Regions from separate parts of the Homo sapiens genome. Here region 1 is linked to region 2. Evidence: fine-mapped expression QTL. A gene starts in region 2. The other region holds a variant in brackets. All regions are shown on one strand. Distances are from middle to middle.

Region 1 (9,220 bases), 91 kb after region 2:
CCCAGCTACTCAGGAGGCTGAGGTGGGAGGATCGCTTGAACCTGGGAGGTCGAGGCTGCTGTGAGCTGTGATTGTGCCACTGCACCCCAGCCTGGGTGACAGAACGAGACCCTGTCTCAAAAAGAAAAAAAAGGTTGGGGGGCGGGGGGCAGGAAGACATTGATTACAAAAAAACCACCAAACTCAGTTCGAGCAAGACAGCGTTTGCCAGACTCCACAGGAAGCTTTGGATGTTCAGAGCTTTTCGGACTTTGGAACCACGGGCCAGGCCGTGGATGATGGTGGATGATGGCGTGCTCGCAGTGAATTAGGAAAAACGCGGAGAACCTGCTGTTAGGAGGCGGTGGCACTGTTTGGAAGGAAATCAGTCGAGTTGGCGTGCAGGGGGTTTACAGAGGAGATGCAGTGAGCGTGGCCCCAGTAGTGCCGGGCTTTGAGTGACACCAGCAAGCGGGTGTCCCCAGGCCCCTCCACCTCCGGCCGTCCTCAGACCCACCAAACCCGCCATGGTCACACCCGCGCCCTGGCCCCCCAGCCTGCCACCCCGTCCGGGCCGTGCACAGAGCCGGGGGCGGCCGGCGCCAGCAGCCCGAGGTAGAGGGGGAGCCCACCCCTTAACCACGTGTCTCTCTGTTCCCCCAGTTAAATGGAAGTGGTCAGCTCAAAATGCCCAGCCACTGCCTTTCTGCTCAGATGCTGGCACCTCCGCCCCCGGGGCTGCCACGGCTGGCGCTCCCCCCTGCCACCAAACCCGCCACCACCTCCGAGGGAGGAGCCACGTCGCCGACCTCGCCTTGTAAGCACGCGGGAAGCGGTGCCCTGGTGGGGCGGATGTCCGCAGGGGGGCCTGTCCCCTCCCCAGCCCCACTGCCAGGTCAGAGGTCAGGCCCGACCCTGCAGGGCCTGGCGAGTTTGGTGGGTCTCCGGAAAACAGCCCAGTGGCCACGTGGTTGGGCCCATGTAGGGCTGAGGCAGCCTTAGGGGCTGGCCGGACCAAGCCTCGGGCCAGGGTGAGAGTCCAGGGTCTGTCCCCTTCGCCGAGTCACCTGGGGGACCCCGGTGCCCGCCGTGGGCCGTCAGAAACCCTCCCTGGTATGTCAGGCAGCTGACAGTGGACACGGATCTCACAGTGGCGGCCCGAGGGCCAGACTCGACCCCCAGACTGGTCTTTTGTTTGTGGAGAAAGAGAATCGGTTGTTATCATTTTAAAATCAGGACGTTTTACATAAACATTTCCAGAGTTCTGGCTTCTTGGGGAGAAAGGAGCTACACCAGGCCCAGTTCCTTTGGGTGACCTGGGCTGGACCACACCTTTAGATGGGACTCTCTTCGCCTGTCCACCTGACCTGGAAGCCCCTGGGTTGGCGGCTGCTGCACCTTCTAGATTTTTCTGCTCTCTGGATGTGGTTCTGGGTGGCTGCTGGATGGCCCCTCGGTCCTGGCATCCCTGTCCTGAGGTCCACCCCATTCGTCCGCAGTGGCTCTACCCCCAGACTCTCCCCACGACCCCCATGCAGGCTTGGGTGGGTCACCCACCCTCACAGGGCGCCAGACATCTCTGAACCCAGAGACCTCTCCCCATGGACTCCATCTGCCCCTCACCCCCCTTTTTGAGCATCTCTGTCCCTCACTCTCCAAATGAGACCCCCCACCCCACCCAAGCAGTTGGTGGCCACGGTTCCTTCTAGGTGCCCTCAGCTCCTCTTCTCCCTGCCCCGGCGTTCCTGTCCCCGTCCCCACTGCGTGCCAGAACCCAGGCTGCCTGCCCATAAAAACCGGCTTCTGATCACTGGCTGGAGGAGATCAGCCCCAAATCCACCCTGGGCTGGAATCCCACCTCTGCAGCTCTCTCACTGTGTGACCTCAGGCAGGTGTCTTCCCCTCTCTGAGCCTCAGTTTTCTCAGCTGCAAAGTGGGTTTGCCTTGGTGCCCAATTCACAGGGCAGTGGGGGACAAGCCGGTGACATGGGTCAGGGAGGCAGAGAGGACATTCCATGTGGCGCCTGATGCTGCGTGGTGTCAGGCAGCTGTGGTCATTCTTGCCGGCTGTCCCTGCCTGCTCATCTGTGAAATGGGAGCGTTGACTGCATAGGATCCAGTCAGGGCTCAGTGGGATCATGCCCAGAGCCTGGTATTCAGTAGACACTTAATAAATGCAGGATACTGCGTGGGATCCACTCAGGGCTCGATGGGATTATGCCCAGAGCCTGGCATACAGTAGACACTTAATAGATGCAGGATACTGTGTAGGATCCACTCAGGGCTCGGTGGGATTATGCCCAGTGCCTGGCATACAGTAGACACTTAATAGATGCAGGATACTGCGTAGGATCCACTCAGGGCTCGGTGGGATTATGCCCAGAGCCTGGCATACAGTAGACACTTAATAGGTGCAGGATACTGTGTAGGATCCACTCAGGGCTCAGTGGGATTATGCCCAGAGCCTGGTATACAATAGACACTTAATAGATGCAGGATACTGCTTAGGATCCACTCAGGGCTCGATGAGATTATGCCCAGAGCCTGGTTTACAGTAGACACTTAATAGATGCAGGATGCTGCTTAGGATCCACTCAGGGCTCGGTGGGATTATGCCCAGAGCCTGGTATACAGTAGACACTTAATAGATGCAGGATGCTGCTTAGTATCCACTCAGGGCTCAACGGGATTATGCCCAGTGCCTGGCATACAGTACACACTTAATAAATGCAGGATAGGCATGGATTCCACCCCCCTTTCCCTGCACCGGGGCTCTTAACTGCAAATCTACTCCTACTTCTCCCCATAAGCCTCGCTGCCTCCAGCTCCCCCCAACCCCAGCCAGGACAACTTGGGGACCCTGCCTGTTGCAGCTTCTTCTCCCCCTACCTGGGTCCCGGCCTGTCTGAGGCCCCCATCCCTGCTGTAGCCCCAGGCCGTGAGTTACTCACACGCCGACAAAATATAATCGCTGAGGCTGAAATATAAATACGCACATCTGTATGTATGCACACACCCAGCCCTCCCTCTGCCCTCTCCGGGAGGAAGATTAATAAATAAAACGCCCTCAATAATTCATGCACCCCGCGCGGAGGCAGCCCTCAGTGGCAGGACCGGGCGGGCGCTGCCCACCCTGAATAATTCACGGGCGGTTTTGTGAATTACAGAGCCATCCTGCCTTCCCTCTCAGCAGACACCCCGCCCACCTGGGCGATCTCAGCCGTGACCCCCGGGCCCCTCGAGTCAGGATCCCCGCCTCCCAAGGACCTTGGGCCTTTCAGGGGGGCCCGGTTCAACTGGGGGTAGGGCGGCAGGCTCGGAGGCCCCAGGCACTGGGTGCAGAGGCCCGGCTGTGTGACGCCTGGCGGTGGCCACCCTCTCTGGGGCCAGGGCCGCCCCGGCTCCCACAACCCCTCGCTAACGGGCTCTCGGTCTCTCTCCTCCCTGCAGCCTACTCTCCGCCCGACACGTCCCCTGCAAACCGTTCCTTTGTGGGATTAGGACCAAGGGATCCTGCGGGCATTTATCAGGCACAGGTAGGGGCCGAGAGGCCGGCTGGTGGGGTGGGAGGGGCAGGGCAGAGGGGCCGGCCCGGGGGGCTCAGGGCGAAGAGGGCCTGCTGGGTCCCACGCCACACCCCTGGCACAGGGGCGCCAGCCTCCCACACCCCACCTGGGCCTCGAGCCCCCACCTGGCCTCTCCCTGAGGCCAAATTTCCCTCCACCTTGGTCCTGGGGGGATGGGGTGTGGCCCCAGACTCAGCCTGTGGGGTCCCCAGGAGCGTCTCTGGAGACCATCGTGGTACAGCTATGGGACCAGTGTCATTACCACCTGCTTCCCATGGTATAGATGGGAAAACTGAGGCCCAGAGAGACAAGGGGGTCTGCCCAGGGTCACACAGTGCATCACCCTCCCTCCTCCAGCCTCCATCCCCCATCCACGCCGAGGCCTAGAGGGACC[G/A]CGGGGTGGCCGGGGGAAACTGAGGCAGCCCATGGCGGGGCGTGGGGCCTCCCAGGACAGCATCCAAGCCCCCACCCCAGGCTTCAGCCCACATCTAAGCCAGTGTGAGGAGTCAGGGCGGAGAGGCTTCGTCAGCAGGACAGACAGGATGGGGCAGGGGCCAGCGTTCATGTTCACGTTGATGTTCATAGTCACGTACATGTTCAGACGGCTGCAGCTGAGTGAGCATGGCCGGGGTCCCACCACCCCTAGAAGGCAGGCAGGCAGGCAGGAGGTTGACAGAGGAGGCTCAGAGAGGGGAAGTCAATTGCCTGAGGCTGCACAGTAGTCTAGGGAGTGGGGGCGTGGGAGGGCAGCCTTAGCCCCAGGCCCAGGTGTCCCTCACCCCCCACCCCCATAAGGGGCTCTGTGTAGGCCAGGAGTGTGTGAGCGCGTCTTCGGGTTATGGGTAAGCAGCTGGACCTTTGAGCCTCTGCTCTCTCCCCGGTTTGTGTTGGGGAGAGGGTTGGAGGATGTAGGAGTGGCTGCCACAGGCCCGGGAGGTCCAGACTCAGAGAGAAACGAGCTCTGGGCTACCCAGCGGCCACGGAACTGCAGAGCGTGGAGATGTATGGGGTCCCCAGGGGCCGTGTTCAAATCTTCCAGCCACTGAGGGAGGTTTCCTGCTGCAGAGCCCACGGGCAAGGGTCACGGGGCCTCCCCGGGACCCTGCGGGGCTGTCCTGGCTGAGCGGATGGGGGCGGGGAGGGGACATGGCATTCCCCCTCCCTCCCTGTGCTGGGTGCCCAGGATGCCTGTAAGCGGCCCCTCCCTCTCTTCCCAGGCTCCGCAAAACCAGCCGGAGGAGGAAGCAGGGATGGAGGCTGCTTCTCCTGAGTTCAGAGGAGATCCATGTGCTATGGGTGGAGGGAATCCTGGGTCAGGGGCCAGGGCTCCAGCCCAGTGCTGGCTCACCCACTCTGAACCTCTGTCTCTTCCTCTGGCCTTGGGCACCCGCACCAAGAGCCTTTGAAGGGCACTGGGGGACAGAAAGGGCACTGAAAGGTTCAGGCTTCCCCACACCCCGTAAATATTAAGTACCCTGCCTTGCACCCATAGAGCCCCGGAGAGGGAGTAACTTGGTCAGGGTCCCCCAGCGAGCAGACGTCCAGGACTCCTCGCTTTGGGATTTGGGCCCCCTATGGCCAACCTCTCCCCCGCCTGGTGCTGATGGAGCCCGGCATTACCTCTGCCACCCCCACCCCACATCGCTCCCTGCCCCTGCGGGAGGCTGGGAACGTCTTAAGTGGTTCAGAAACCAAAGCTAATAAAAGCTGCGGTGGGAGGAGGCCCAGCCCGCTTAACCCTTCCCCAGCCTCTGCCTTGGACCAAACTCTCTGACCAGGCCCTCCCGCCAGGGCCCGGGACCCTTCTCTCAGACTGTGCTGGCTCCAGCCCCACCCCACCCAAGCCTGGGAGGGAAGGGAAACTGAGGCAGGCAAGGGTGGCACCTTTCTCAGCATCCCTATCTTGACTGGCTGGACTCCTCTGGGGACCCAGAAAGGGTGGGACCAGGGCTGGCAGAATGGGGTGTGGGGGGGCACTGGCAAGGGGCTCAGCATAGGCAATGGTGTGGGTCGGGGGAGGGGGAGCTGGCTGGAATGTGAGAGATCTCCGGTGGCAGGGGCCAGACAGATGATGCGGGCTTTGCTCTGGGGTAGTGGGGAGCCATAGAAGGGTTTAGAGGGAGGGAGTGGACACCCACCAGGCCTGGGAGTCAGAACTTTCTGGAGCACAGAAAGGAGGTGACACATTGTCAAGAGGCTCTCAGGGGAGCATGGGTTAGGGGGAAGGCGAGGTCCCCAAACTGGGCATCCAGGGAGCACAGGTCTGGGGAGGACCCCATTGCTGCTGCCCTGACTGGACTAAGAGCACCTGGGTTGAGGCCGGGCGCCGCCACCTCCCTGCAGACCCCGGAGAGAGGGAGGGAAGAAGCAGTGAGATCCCGCTCTCCCCTCTCCCAGCTCCCGCTCAAAGGGCCCTGAGCTTGGAGGCCTCTCATTTCCGATTCTGGCCAGTCAGCACTTCTGCCTCCGCCTCCTCTATTCCTGGCGGATTCGCTTCCCTCTGCCCCCTCCTCCCCCAAAGCCTGGGTGGGCGCGCCTTTCCCTCTGCCTCTCCGGCTCCCGACACCCCCCAGTCCATGGACTCTCCCCCCATCAATATCCCTCCCCGTGATCTATGCTAATTGATCTCGCCCTGGTCAGTTACCCACCCATCGCCCCATGTCCGTCCCTATCAATCCCCCCACTGTGAGGCTGGGTGGCTCTGACGCCCTGGCCCCTCCCCTCTGTGATGTCCTTCACGCCCCTACATTTCTCCTGCACGGGAACCCACGTAAGCAGCTGGGTAAACCGAGGGTGGGGGGCAAGGCGGGCATTGAGCCACATGCCGGGAGCCACACAGGCGGCTGCAGCCAGGCCAGCAGGATACCAGAGCCCAAACCTCCCCCTTCACACCTACTGCCTCAGTCTCCCCTCAGCTGAGTGGGAGGATGTGGAGTTGAGGGTGCCCCCACCCCACCCCCGCCCCATTGCTGGGGCCACAGCCAGGCAGGAAGGGGAGGGGAGGGAAGGGAGGAGGGAGGAAGGGCTGAGGGGAGGCTGGTCCACCACGGGGAGGGTCACGCCCAGAGTCTGTCGGTTGCCAACAGAAACCAGACATGAGGTAATGGCCAAGATGAACTTGAACTTGGCTGGAGGTGGGGCGCTGGGAACCACTGTGGCGCCAGTTCCATGGGCTGGCCCAGTGGCTGCCTGGTTGGAGGGGCTCTGTTGAATGATTTGCTGCAGCGGTGGGGGGCGGCCCCACCTCTAACCTCAGTTGGGGAGTGGAGGGGTCTCCCCAGTTCCAGAGGCACAGCCCTCCCCTCACAGTCCACCCTGGATGCTCCATCTGGGGTTGGAGTTTGCGTTTCCAGGGCAGGGGTCTGGACAGCAGCTTCTCTGCAGAGACTGAGGCCGGAGCTGTCCCCAAATGACGTGACCTTGGGTACAGCCCCATGCAGAACTCCCCTCCCTTAGCCTCGGTCTCCCGCCTCTGGGAGGTTGAGAGTCATCCTCAGCCCCCCTGTGCTTAGTGAGCTTCTGTGGAGCAAGAGGGGGCCATCCGGGGGACCTGTGACAGGATGGGCCCTGGACGCCCAGGACAGTGCTCAGAAGATGCCAAGGGGATTCCTGAGAGGCAGGCGAGGGGGTTGGCCCTGGGCAGGAGCAGAAATGAGAGCCAGAGCCAGACAGGCCTGAGTTCAAGTTCCACCTCTGCCGCTTCCATGCTGGTGACCTCGGGCAAGTTCCTTGACTTCTCTGGGCCTCACTTTCTTCACACAAAACAGCGGTGGAGGGAGACCTACCCCCTCCTTCACGGGGATACCGGGGACATCATTAAAGAGGAGAATTTTTTTTTGTTTTTTTTTGGTTTTTTTGGTTTTTGTTTTGAGACGGAGTCTTATGCTGCCCAGGCTGGAGTGCAATGGCACGATCTTGGCTGACTACAACCTCCGCCCCCTGGATTCAGACGATTCTGCTGCCTCAGCCTCCCGAGTAGCTGGGATTACAGGCACGTGCCACCACGCCTGGCTAATTTTTGTATTTTTAGTAGAGACAGGGTTTCACCATGTTGGCCAGGCTGGTCTCGAACCCCTGACCTCAGGTGATCCACCCACCTTGGTCTCCCAAAGTACTGGGATTACAGGCATGAGCCACCGAGCCCAGCCTCTTGTTTACTTTTTAAAAACATTCTCAAGGCCATGTGCAGTGGCTCATGCCTATAATCCCAGCACTTTGGGAGGCCAAAGCAAACGAATAAGCTGAGGTCAGGAGTTTGAGACCAGCCTGGCCAACATGGAGAAACCCCGTTTCTACCAAAAATACAAAAATTAGCTGGGTGTGATGGCGCATGCGTGTAATCCTAGCTACTCGGGAGGCTGAGGCAAGAAAATCACTTGAACCCGGGAGGCAGAGGTTGCAGTGAGCCAAGATCGTGCCACTGCACTCCAGCCTGGTGACAAGAGCGTGACGCTGTCTCAAAAAATCAACAAAAAACCTCTTTATAAAGTGAACAAGGCAGCTGATGTGGTGGCTCATGTCTGTAATCCTAGCACTTTGGGAGGAAGGAGTTCAAGGCCAGCCTGGTCTACATGGCGAAACCCCACCTCTACAAAAAAAAAAAAAAAACTAGTCAGATGTGGTGGAACATACCTGTGGTCCCAGCTACTCGGGAGGCTGAGGTGGGAGGATCACTTGAGCCCAGGAGATGGAGGCTGCAGTGAGCTATGATGGCACCACTGCACTCCAGCCTGGGCAACGGAGCAAGACCCTGTCTCAAAATAAAATAATAAATTGGCTGGCCACAGTGGCTCACGCCTGTAATCCCAGCACTTTGGGAGGCCAAGGTGGGCGGATCACTTGAGGCCAGGAATTCAAGACCAGCCCGGCCAACATGGCGAAACCCGGTCTCTACTAAGAATACAAAAATTAGCTGGGTGTGGTGGGGCGGGCCTGTAATCCCAGCTACTTGGGAGGCTAAGGCACAAGGATCACTTGAACCCAGGAAGCGGAGGTTGTAGAGAGCCAAGATCACACCACTGCATTCCAGCCTGGGCAACAGAGCAAGACTCTGTCTCATAAATAAATAATAAATAGAGAAGAAAATAATTTTTAAAATATAAAATAAAGGCCAGGCAGAGTGGCTCACGCCTGTAATCCCAGCACTTTGGGAGGCCGAGGCGGGCGGATCACGAGGTCAAGAGAGTGAGACCATCCTGGCCAACATGGTGAAACCCTGTCTCTACTAAAAATATAAAAATTAGCTGAGTGTGGTGGCATGCGCCTGTAATCCCAGCTACTCGGGAGGCTGAGGCAGGAGAATCACTTGAACCTGGGAGGCAGAGGTTGCAATGAGCCGAGATCATGCCACTGCACTCCAGCCTGGCAACAGAGCGAGACTCTGTCTCAATAAATAAATAAATAATATAATATAATAAAGTAAGATTGAGTTCCAGACTGGGAGTGCTGGCTCACACCTGTAATTCCAGCACTTTGGGAGGCCGAGGAAGGTGGATCACTTGAGGTCAGGCGTTTGAGACCAGCCTGGCCAACATGGTGAAACCCCATCTCTACTAAAAATACAAAAATTATCCAGGTGTGGCGGTGGACGCCTGTAATCCCAGCTACTCGGGAGGCTGAGGTAGGAGAATTGCTTGAACCCAGGAGGCAGAGGTTGTAGTGAGCCAATATCACGC
Region 2 (9,220 bases):
CATCCCTCACACCCACTCCCAGCCTCAGACTCACAGCTATCTCCCTCCGCACTCCCGGAGGGACGGTTGGATGCCCTGGCCTTCAGCACACGGCATGGCCCTCTGTCCCCATTTTGGGTTCTGTGCACAGTGGGACACACGTGCATGCAGTCATAGTTACACACACACACACACGACACTCCCTCACGGTGCCTGTGTCTGCATGACTCTGCACACACAACCACACAGAGACTCACATAGACACACACAGGCCTGTCTAGAGACAGACGTCACACACACAGGCGTGCACAGACACACATGGGCAGACACACTCACGGACACAAACACCGCACTTGCGGGGGGATAGACAACCACATCTCACCCTCCTGCCCTTCCCTGTCCCCACCGCGTTTCTGCAGGGCCGAGAGCCCAGCTCCAGGCAGAGCTGGTGCAGGAGGAGCAGGGAGGTGGCGTGCTGTGTGTCATTGTGATGGTGCGTATGTGACTCTGTGTGTGCCTGTATGGGAATACCGGGGGGTTCCACTTGTGGGTGTGTGTGTGCTTGTAAGAGTGTGTGCTTTTGTGTGGAGTGTGTCTGTGATTGTGGACAAGTGCCCATGTGTTTGTGGTTGTGTCTGCACTTGTGTGGGGGCAGCTATATCCATGCGTTGTGCTTGTCAAGAAGCGTCCTGTGGGGAGTTGGGAGGGTGTGTTTGTGGCTGTGTGTGTGCCATGTGGGTCTGTGTGTGTGTGTGTGTGTCTCTGCTCGCCCCTCTTTGAGGAGGTATCTGAGGTCAGGTGTGGGGGGAAGGCTGTGATGATATATGGGTCTGTTTTTATGTGAGTCTGTGCGTGTATTTGTGTCTTTGTGTATGTAGCTGTGTGTCGTGTGGAGTCTGTGTCTGCAGCTGCTTGAGTCTGCACGATGTGTGTCTGTGTGTCTCTGTAGGTCGTAGTGTGTGGTGTGTGTGTCTATCTGTACCAGCCTCAACGGCCTATCTGACCTTTAACTCACTTGACTTTAACATCCCTTCTTACAGCCTCAGTTTCTCATCTGTAAAATGGGACCACATGGGACCCTTGCAAGGTTCCTGGGGAGCTGACATTGTGAGCCCCTTGCTGAGCAGGTGCGGGGCTAGGGGAGGCTGACTGCACACTGCACTGCTGTGTAATCATTTGCCTGCAAGATTATGTCCTTTATTCTCTGGGTGTGGTGGCTGTGGGGTTACCATGGGGGGCTGGGGGTTCCTGTCTACCCTGCCTGAGCTGCTCTGTGAATTGCATTCAACTTTTTAAGTTTTCCTTTAATTACTGAAGCCATTAGTGATCATATGAAGAGGATACAACTGTATCCAGAGGAAAAAAAATCCAATCTTTCTGATCACCCCCATTCCTGGGTGGAACCCCGCTCCAGAATGTTACCATCTATAGTTGGAGCATTTGCAGGACTGAGAAATACACACTTATAGAGGATACATGTGCATATGTGTATATTTCCATAAAGGATGTACTTGTGGAAATACTCGTGTATTTCCATAAAGGAGACATATGTATATGTATGTGTATGTGTGTGTATATATATATATATATATATATATATATTTTTTTTTTTTTTTTTTTTGAGATGGAGTTTCGCTCTGTTGCCCAGGCTGGAGTGCAATGGCATGATCCTGGCTCACTGCAACCTCCACCTCCCGAGTTCAAGCGAACCTCCAGCCTCAGCCTCCCGAGTAGCTGACATTACAGGCACCCTCGCCCATGCCCGGCTAATTTTTGTAATTTTAGTAGAGACGGGGTTTCGCCATGTTGGCCAGGCTGATTTTAAACTCCTGACCTCAAGTGATCTGCCTGCCTCGGCCTCCCAAAGTGTTGGGATTACAGGCGTGAGCCACTACAACCGGCCAAAGGAGATATGTGTGTGTGTGGGTGTGTGTGCATGTGTGTGTATGTAAAGGATACTATGTATATTTGTATAAATACATGTGTACTCTTTAAAACCCTAAATGAGATCTTGAATTTCCTTGCTGGGTCTACAGCAGTGGGGTCTCAGCCAGGGTTGATTCTGTTCCCATGGGACACTTAGCCATGTCTAAGGACATTTGTGGTTGTCACGACTGGGGGGTGCCCCTGGCATGGAGTGGGTGGAGGCCATGGACTCTGCTCAGCACCCTGCAGGGCCCAGGACGGCCCCAACCCAGAGAGCGATCCAGCCCCAGTGTCCACAGTGCCAAGGGGGAGAGCTCTCCAGCTTTCTGTCCCCCCACTTGTCTCTTGGGGACATAACCAGTTGGGAGCCACTGGTTTTACTCAGCTGCATAGTGTCCCAGCCTGTGTTGGGATTACTAAACCGGTCCCCCACAGATGGACAGCATGGCTGCCTCCAAATTGTGGGCATTAGTTTTATAGGTGGCAGTCAACTCTTTTGTGCTCCTGTATCTGGGACAGTTACAGAGATGCCGAAGAGTGAAATAACTGTAGAGAGAGTGCTTTGAAAAAAAAAAAAAATGAGCCAGATTGTGCTCGAAAGTGCCAGGAGCTAAATCATGCACCCATCTTCCGGGCCCTCCACATGCAGGTCCCAATCTACCAATTGCCTTTTTAAAGAAACTATGACGTACAGTTCCCTGTTGTAACCACGGGCAGGTATTTGCTGACTTGCCTACAACCTGGAGGGTTATGAGCTGGCGTCGCCCCATTTCACAGAGGGAGAGCCGAGGTGCAGAGAGACGAAGCTGCTGACTGGAGGAGACATAGACCCAAGCAGCGAGCCCACGCGGCAATTTAGGGAACCAACTGTGTGTGCTGCGGGGGTCCCTTGCCACCCAAACTGGGATATAGGCTGCTGTTCGTACACTTGCAGAAGTTTCTCCCTGCAGCTACCGCCACCAATAATATTCACACAGCCTTCCCACATGCTATGTAAAGACTCCAACCTTCCCCACCTCCCAAGATGCATCCTGTTACTATAGCCATTTTACAGATGAGGAAACCGAGGTTCCAAGAGGGGCAGTCTCTGCTCTCTAAACTTCACCTTCCAAAGGATTCTAAGCTGCTGAATGAAGGCTGCAGGCAGGGTGGTCTGTACAGGGGAGGGAGGGTGGAAGGCACGGGGTCTGGAAGTCTAGGAGGAGTGTCTGAAGTCAACTGCAACTTTTAAATATCTGTGAATTTTAGATTTCACCCTGTATGTGTCCCTAGCGTGTTTTAATAAAATAAATTGCTTCACGTTATATTGGTATGTGGATTTCCAGATACACTTCTCACCATTTAATTCAAATGCTCCCCACAGCTGCACAGTGGGTTTAAAATACACAGACACACACATTTATGGACCGTTCGTGATGTACTAAGCACTGTTTGAATAATGTCACCGTCATGCAGAGGGGAGCCTGTGGGGGGCCTAGGGAACCTACGCTGCAGGAATTCTGCTCCCTCCTAGTTTACCTGTCAGACCCTGGGCAAGTGGCTTCCGTTCTCTGGGCCTCAGTTTCCTCTCCTGTAATGCCTGAGGATAATGGGTGCTGGTATCTTCTGCGCCCCTGGGCCTGGGGCACCTGCCCCAGCTTGGTGAGAGGGTATCATTTGTCCTTGGGAAGCTCAGAGAGATGAGGTGAAATGGCCAAGCTTTCTAAGAATGTGTCTTTAGTGAACATTTGACCCAAGGTCAAGGCTCTGCTAAGGTCATTGTCCTTATCCCCAGCAATCCCACAGGATGGGCATCTTTAAGCCACTTTATAGGGGAGAACCCTTGGGATGGGAATGAGAGACACAGCAGCCTCTGAGCTAGCCTGGGAGGATCCAGGGAGTGAACCGGGGGAGGGTTGGGGCCCTGTCATCAGATGCCCTGGGGGCTCAGACGGAGGCAGGCCAGGTCTCTGCCCTGTTACGTCTAGAAGGAGAACAGAATGTGGGCTCCAGGTCCAGATGGCCTGGCTCCAAGCCACACTTGCCATACCTCAGTCTTGAGATCTGTGAAAAGGGCACACCCCTGAGGCAGGTGGAAATTATTGGATACCCAGGGGGAGGCTGCAAGGGTTTATCTGGCCAGCTGGAGATCCCGCCTGGACACCGTCCTCCTGGGGTGCTGGAGAGACACACAGGCGAGGCCACCCCTCCCCTGCCCCTTGGGTGCTGGGTGAAGAGAGCAAATTCTGGAGCCTCCCGTGTTAGCCTGGGCCCTTCTGGCCAAGGAAGGGACAGCTGCACACAAGCCCCTCTAGCTGGGGACCCGCAGCCCCTGCCTGGCTCTGGGGGGAGAAGGGAGCCAGGGTGCTGTGGGACCAGCTCACCGTGCACCCAGGGTCGTACATCTTTAAGGGGAAAGAGGCGCGCTGGCCGGCCTCTGCGCACGTCACTTCTTCATTCCTTCCCTCCCCCCTGGCTCTTTCCTCCAACTTCCCGGCCAGCTCGGGGGTGATGGGGGGGTGGGGAGGGGGGGCCTTAAAAATCCACCCCTGGCCCCTCAATGTCCAGAAACAACCCTGTCCCCCCTCTCCGCTTGATCCGAATTGGGGTCGCCCTGCAGTCCTGGGGTCCTGGTCTAGTGCCCTGGGGCATTGCGTAAATACGGGAGGAGCGGGGGGGTCCTGAGACGTCGGGGGAGGCTCTCCTTTCTCGCTCGCGCCCTTTTTTCCCTCGTTTCTTTGAAAGTTGGGTGTTGAGAAGTGGGAGGTTCGGGGTGGGAGGGGGAGGGTGTCAGAGGGTAGAGAGAGAGACAGAGAGACAGAGACGGGGGAGAGAGGAAGAGAGAGACGGAGGGAGAGAGGGACAGAGAGCGAGGCGGGCGGCGCGAGAGAGGGAGAGCAGGAGGGAGGAGGAGGGAGACCGAGGGAGGAGGCGGCGAGGAGAGCGCGCCGGCCGCGGGGCGGGGGGGGGGGTTGGGGGGGGCGGGGGGGTGGTTTGGAAAAATGACTCAGTAAGTTCAGCGCGCCCGCTCCGGCCGGCCCTGCGCCTCCCGCCGCGCCCGGGATGTATTCGTCCCCGCTCTGCCTCACCCAGGTACGGTCCTCGCCCGGCCCCCCGCCGGCGCCCCCGCGCCCCCCGCATCCCAGCCCCGGAGTTTTGAAGCAGGAGGAGGCGGGACGAAAAAGGCGCGCGTCCCTCCCGCCATCCCTGCCCGGGATGCCCCCCGCGCCGAGGGCTGGGGTCCGGTGGGGGGATGGGTCAGGCTGGGGTACCCCCCCCACACCCTTACCTACCGCGGACCCCCTACGCGGGACTCCCGCCCAGCACCCCCAACCCCGACTCTCGGGACCTCTCCCGGATGTGGGGCTTGGTCTGCAGATTTGCGTCCCCCCCCCACACACCGACGCACTCCGCACCCCCGCCCCGACACTCGGAAAGGTCGGGGTGGGGGCTGGCCCCCCTCCAGCAAGGGCTCTGCGGGAAGCCCCCCGCCTGCCTCTGAGAGGAATCTAGGGGGTCGTGATTGGACCCTGGGTCTCCCCAGCTGGAGAGAAAGGGACCTCTCATGTGTTTTCCCCGTGTCCCCCCACCAAGGTTGTGCGGGCCGCCCTGGCCCTCGGTCGCCTTTCCCTCGTTATTGGCCCACGTGTGCATGGAGGGGGAGGGGGCAGGAGAAGTTGGAGGCCCAGGAGGGGGAAGGGTGCTCCGGCGGCCCGGCTGGGTCCCCCCTCCTTTGCAAGCCCCCCAGCACCGTCCCGGTATTTTCGCTGCATCGATTCTGGATTCTGGATTCTGGATTCTGGAGCCGCCGCCGGGAGGAGCGGGAGGCCCGGCGCTCCGGGTCTGGCCCGGGCACTGCGGCGCTGCGGACGCCCTCGCCAGCCCGGCACCTGCCCCGTCCCCTCCCCCTCCCCCTCCCCCTCCCGTAGCCTCTCACCCCTGGCCGCACTCCCAGACTGCCCCGGGGCCGAGCCTTGTGCAATGGCCGAGGGGGTGTGTGGGGAGGGGGCGGCTCCCCCCGGGGACTCCTTCCAGCCCAGGCTCCCGGGGACCCCGAGGTCTGCAAGTTCCGTTTTCTAGACCGCTGCTTTCCTCCTTACGCAGTGTGTCTTTAGGCTGGAGAGGTTCTGGCCTCAGTTTCCCCTGAAGTGAGGTGCGGCTAAGGCCGGTTCTGGAGAGGGGACAGTATGGCGGGCAAACTGTAAAGTCCCGGCACGTGGGGGGTGCGATTCCAGCGAGGGCCAGGCCCGTCTTAAGAAGCACTGTGTGGGGAGTATATGAGTCCCCGGCTTCCGCTCCAGGGCATGGTGCAGTGAGGGACCCCCCACGCCAGGCATGCTCCTTGGTAGGGTCTTTCTCACCGGCCCCCTGCAGCCGACAGGGAATGTGGGAGCTGGTGCTGAGGGGGTCTGAGGTCTGTCCTACCTGTGATCCCCTGAGTGACCTTGGGTAAGTCCCTGTCCCAGCCTCAGTTTCCCTTTCTGAGCAGCTTTGGGGGGGGGGTTCCCGAAGAAGGCATCTCTTTGAAGTTCTCCAAGAACAACTAGGGTTCGAGTGGGCACGCTGTGTGACCTCGGGCAGCCTTTGAAGTCTCTGGGCTTGTGGGGTGACTGAGGTGTCCCCGCTCTGTCCTCACCAGCTGGAAGGAGCCATTTGGGAGGGCTGAGCGGAGGGGAGGCTGTTCCAGGCTGGGGAGGTTGGAAGGCTGCCTGTGCACCCTGGAATTCCCCCATCAGGGCTGGTTGGGAGACATCCTGGTTGCTGGGGTGGGTTGGGGGTTAGTAAGAACCCCAGTCCAGGCTTTGCCTCAGAGAATTGCTAACTCGGCCTCAGTTTCTCCAGGAACAGGGCAAGGACCAGCCAGGAGGGCTGTCTGTGGAAACCAAAAAACGGAGAGGCTAAAAACTAAAAACTATCCAGGGGTGCTGCGTGCAAGAGACAGAGATGAGAAGACAGAGACAGGCAGAGAGACAGAGGCAGAGAGCTCCCAGGCCAGAGTGGGGACAGCGAGTCCCAAGTGCAGGGGGCTCCCTCCTCCCCTGCGATTCTCCTCTCTGCCCCGCCCTCCACCCCAGCCCTGTAGTGGAGCTGGGGACCCCCTTTCCAGTTTGTCTTCAGCCTGAATGTAATCCCCACTGTTCCCCCAAGGCCCAGCCTGGTCTGGGGTAGCCAGTGGGGTGGGCTGGGGGACTCAGAAGGACCCTGAGTGCCCCATGCAGGAGCCTCCCACCCAAGTCCTGGCTGCCTGACTCAGTTTCCCGAATCACGTCCCCTCCGTTTCTCTCATCTTGGTCTCTTTTTGTCTGTCTTTCTCTCTTTCTCTCTGTCTTGCTCTGACTCTGTGTGTGTGTGTGTGTGTGTGTGTGTGTGTGTGTCTGTTTCTCCCTGTCTCTCCATCTCTGTCTCTCCCCGCCTCTGTTTCACTCCCAGTCACTGTTGGTCTCTTTGTGTCTCTCTTTCTCATCCTCTGTCTCTCTGATGTCTCAGTCTCTCCCACTGTCTCTGTCTCTTCATGTCTATCTCACCATCCCTTTCTCCTCTTTGTCTCTGCATGTCTCTTTGATGTGTCTCTGTCTCTCTGTCTCTCCCTCCCTTTGCCTTCTTTGTGTGTCTGTCCGATGTGTCTCTGTCTGTTTCTCTGTCTCTGTCTCTCTGCCCCCTTCCTCTCTGTCTCTGTTTCTCTCCAATATGTCTGTCTGTCTCTTCATCTCTGTCTCACCTTCCCTTTCTCCTCTGTCTCTGCGTGTCTCCCCTTGCCCCCTCTCTCCCTGTCTCTCTCTATCTCTGCATGTGTCTCCTTACTCCTCTCTCTCTGTCTCTCTCTGTCTCTGGGCCTCCCTCTCCCCCTTTTCCCAGCTAATTTTACAACCTGAGCCCAACCGAAAATAGCTCCCTTTTAGCTGATCCGACCCGGATCCTTCTCGGGAGCCGAGGCTGGCGGGGGGTGGGGGGCATCTCGGTGCCAGCCCGCTCTGTGCCACCCGGGCCCGGCCCGCCGAGTGGGGAGTGGGTGCTGGCGGCCCTGGGGCATTCTGGGAGCCCCGGGCCGGGCTCAGCGGTGACTCAAGCGCTTTTTCACTTTTACTCTTAAGAGGAACTGTGTGGAGCCCATGGCTCCCATAAATCCTGCCGGCGGGAAGGCCGGCCTCCCCGCGCCTGCTCTGGGCCTCCCTCCCTGCCTCCCTCCCGCTGGCGCCACCGCCACGTTAGTTATTCCGGGTTTGGGGCCAAGTCCCTCTTGGCCGCAGCGTGGCGGATTCCCCGAGCCACCTCCATCCCGCCACCGGGTCCCTGTCTCATTCGTTCGTTGTTTCCTTCATTCGTTCGTCCCATGCCCTCTCGGAGCACAATGTGCTTTGCTGCCATTTCTCCAGCAGGGTAACCGAGGCTGGGAGAGGCTGTCCTCCCACCCCAGACCCCCGACCTTTGTTGGATTTTCTAGATCTTCCTTAAGCATCTCCTGGGCCCTGGGGATAGGTGGGGGTGGGGGAGGCAGCAGGGCCCAGGCCCAGTGTAGGTTCTTAGAGGGAGCTTGGGGGGTGCCTACCAGGAGCAGGGGGCCTGCAGCCCCTCAGTGCCGGGAGAGGGGCTAAGAGTCAGAGAGGGCCAGGGCCTGCCCGAGGTGGCACAGTGGGGCTGGCAGAGCTGGGGTTCAGGCCATTTTCCATCTGGCGGCTTGGGCAGGTGGGCGCTCTCTCCCCGTGTGCCCCCCACCCGGGGCCTGGTGGCCTCTGATTCACTCTCTACAAGGCTCCACCACTCTCCCGCTGTATCTCCCTCTGGGTCTCTCTGTGCATCTCTCTCTGTTTCTCCCCCTCCCCTCTCTGCGGCGGAGGTGCCTCTGCGCGCCAGGGCCAAGCGCCCTGTAAATCACCAAAGCTGGGATTCTGGCAGAGTCAGCGTTCTCCTCTCTCTCTCTCTCTCTCTCTGTCTCCCTCCCTTTCTCCCCCCATCTCGCTCTCTCCTCCTCTCTCCCTCTCTCCTTCTCTGTCTCCCTTTCCGTCTTTCCCTCTTCCTTTCTCTCTCTCTCCCCGTCTCCCTTCTCTCCCTCTCTCCTTCTCTCTTCTCTCTCTCTTTCTCCCTCCCTACCTCCCTCTCTGTTCCTCTTCTTTCTCTCTGTCTGTCTCTTTCTTTCTCCCTCCCTTCCTCTCTCTCTGTTCCTCCTCTTCTTTCTCTCTCTCTGTCTCTCTGAGCTGGCCTCCCTCCCTGTCTCACACCAAATGGATGGGAAATGCTGCCTGGGCCTCCTGCCCCGGACACGGCCCGCCCCCCACTCTCCTGCCTGTGTCCACGCCGACCTCACCTGGGTGCCCATCTGCCCTGAGCACACAGCGTG

What was found. PIP is the estimated chance that this variant, and not a neighbour inherited with it, causes the effect.
Region 1: its variant is fine-mapped to the expression of NFIC in fibroblasts (GTEx, PIP above 0.99). The same link has a PIP of 0.9 or more in aorta and whole blood.

The regions. Positions count from the first base shown.
Region 1 is chr19:3,453,121-3,462,340 of GRCh38, forward strand. NFIC (nuclear factor I C) reads left to right here. Exons shown (of 11, transcript NM_001245002.2): 9 at 643-796; 10 at 3,430-3,515. Among named protein-coding and RNA genes, the nearest start is that of SMIM24, 23 kb to the right of the region's middle. RefSeq lists a silencer at 4,409-4,458. The variant G/A (reference allele first, on the strand shown) is at 3,940.
Region 2 is chr19:3,361,690-3,370,909 of GRCh38, forward strand. NFIC (nuclear factor I C) reads left to right here and starts at 4,894. Exons shown (of 11, transcript NM_001245002.2): 1 at 4,894-4,977. The coding sequence starts at 4,948. RefSeq lists silencers at 4,523-4,612, 5,063-5,212, 5,503-5,902, 7,674-7,953.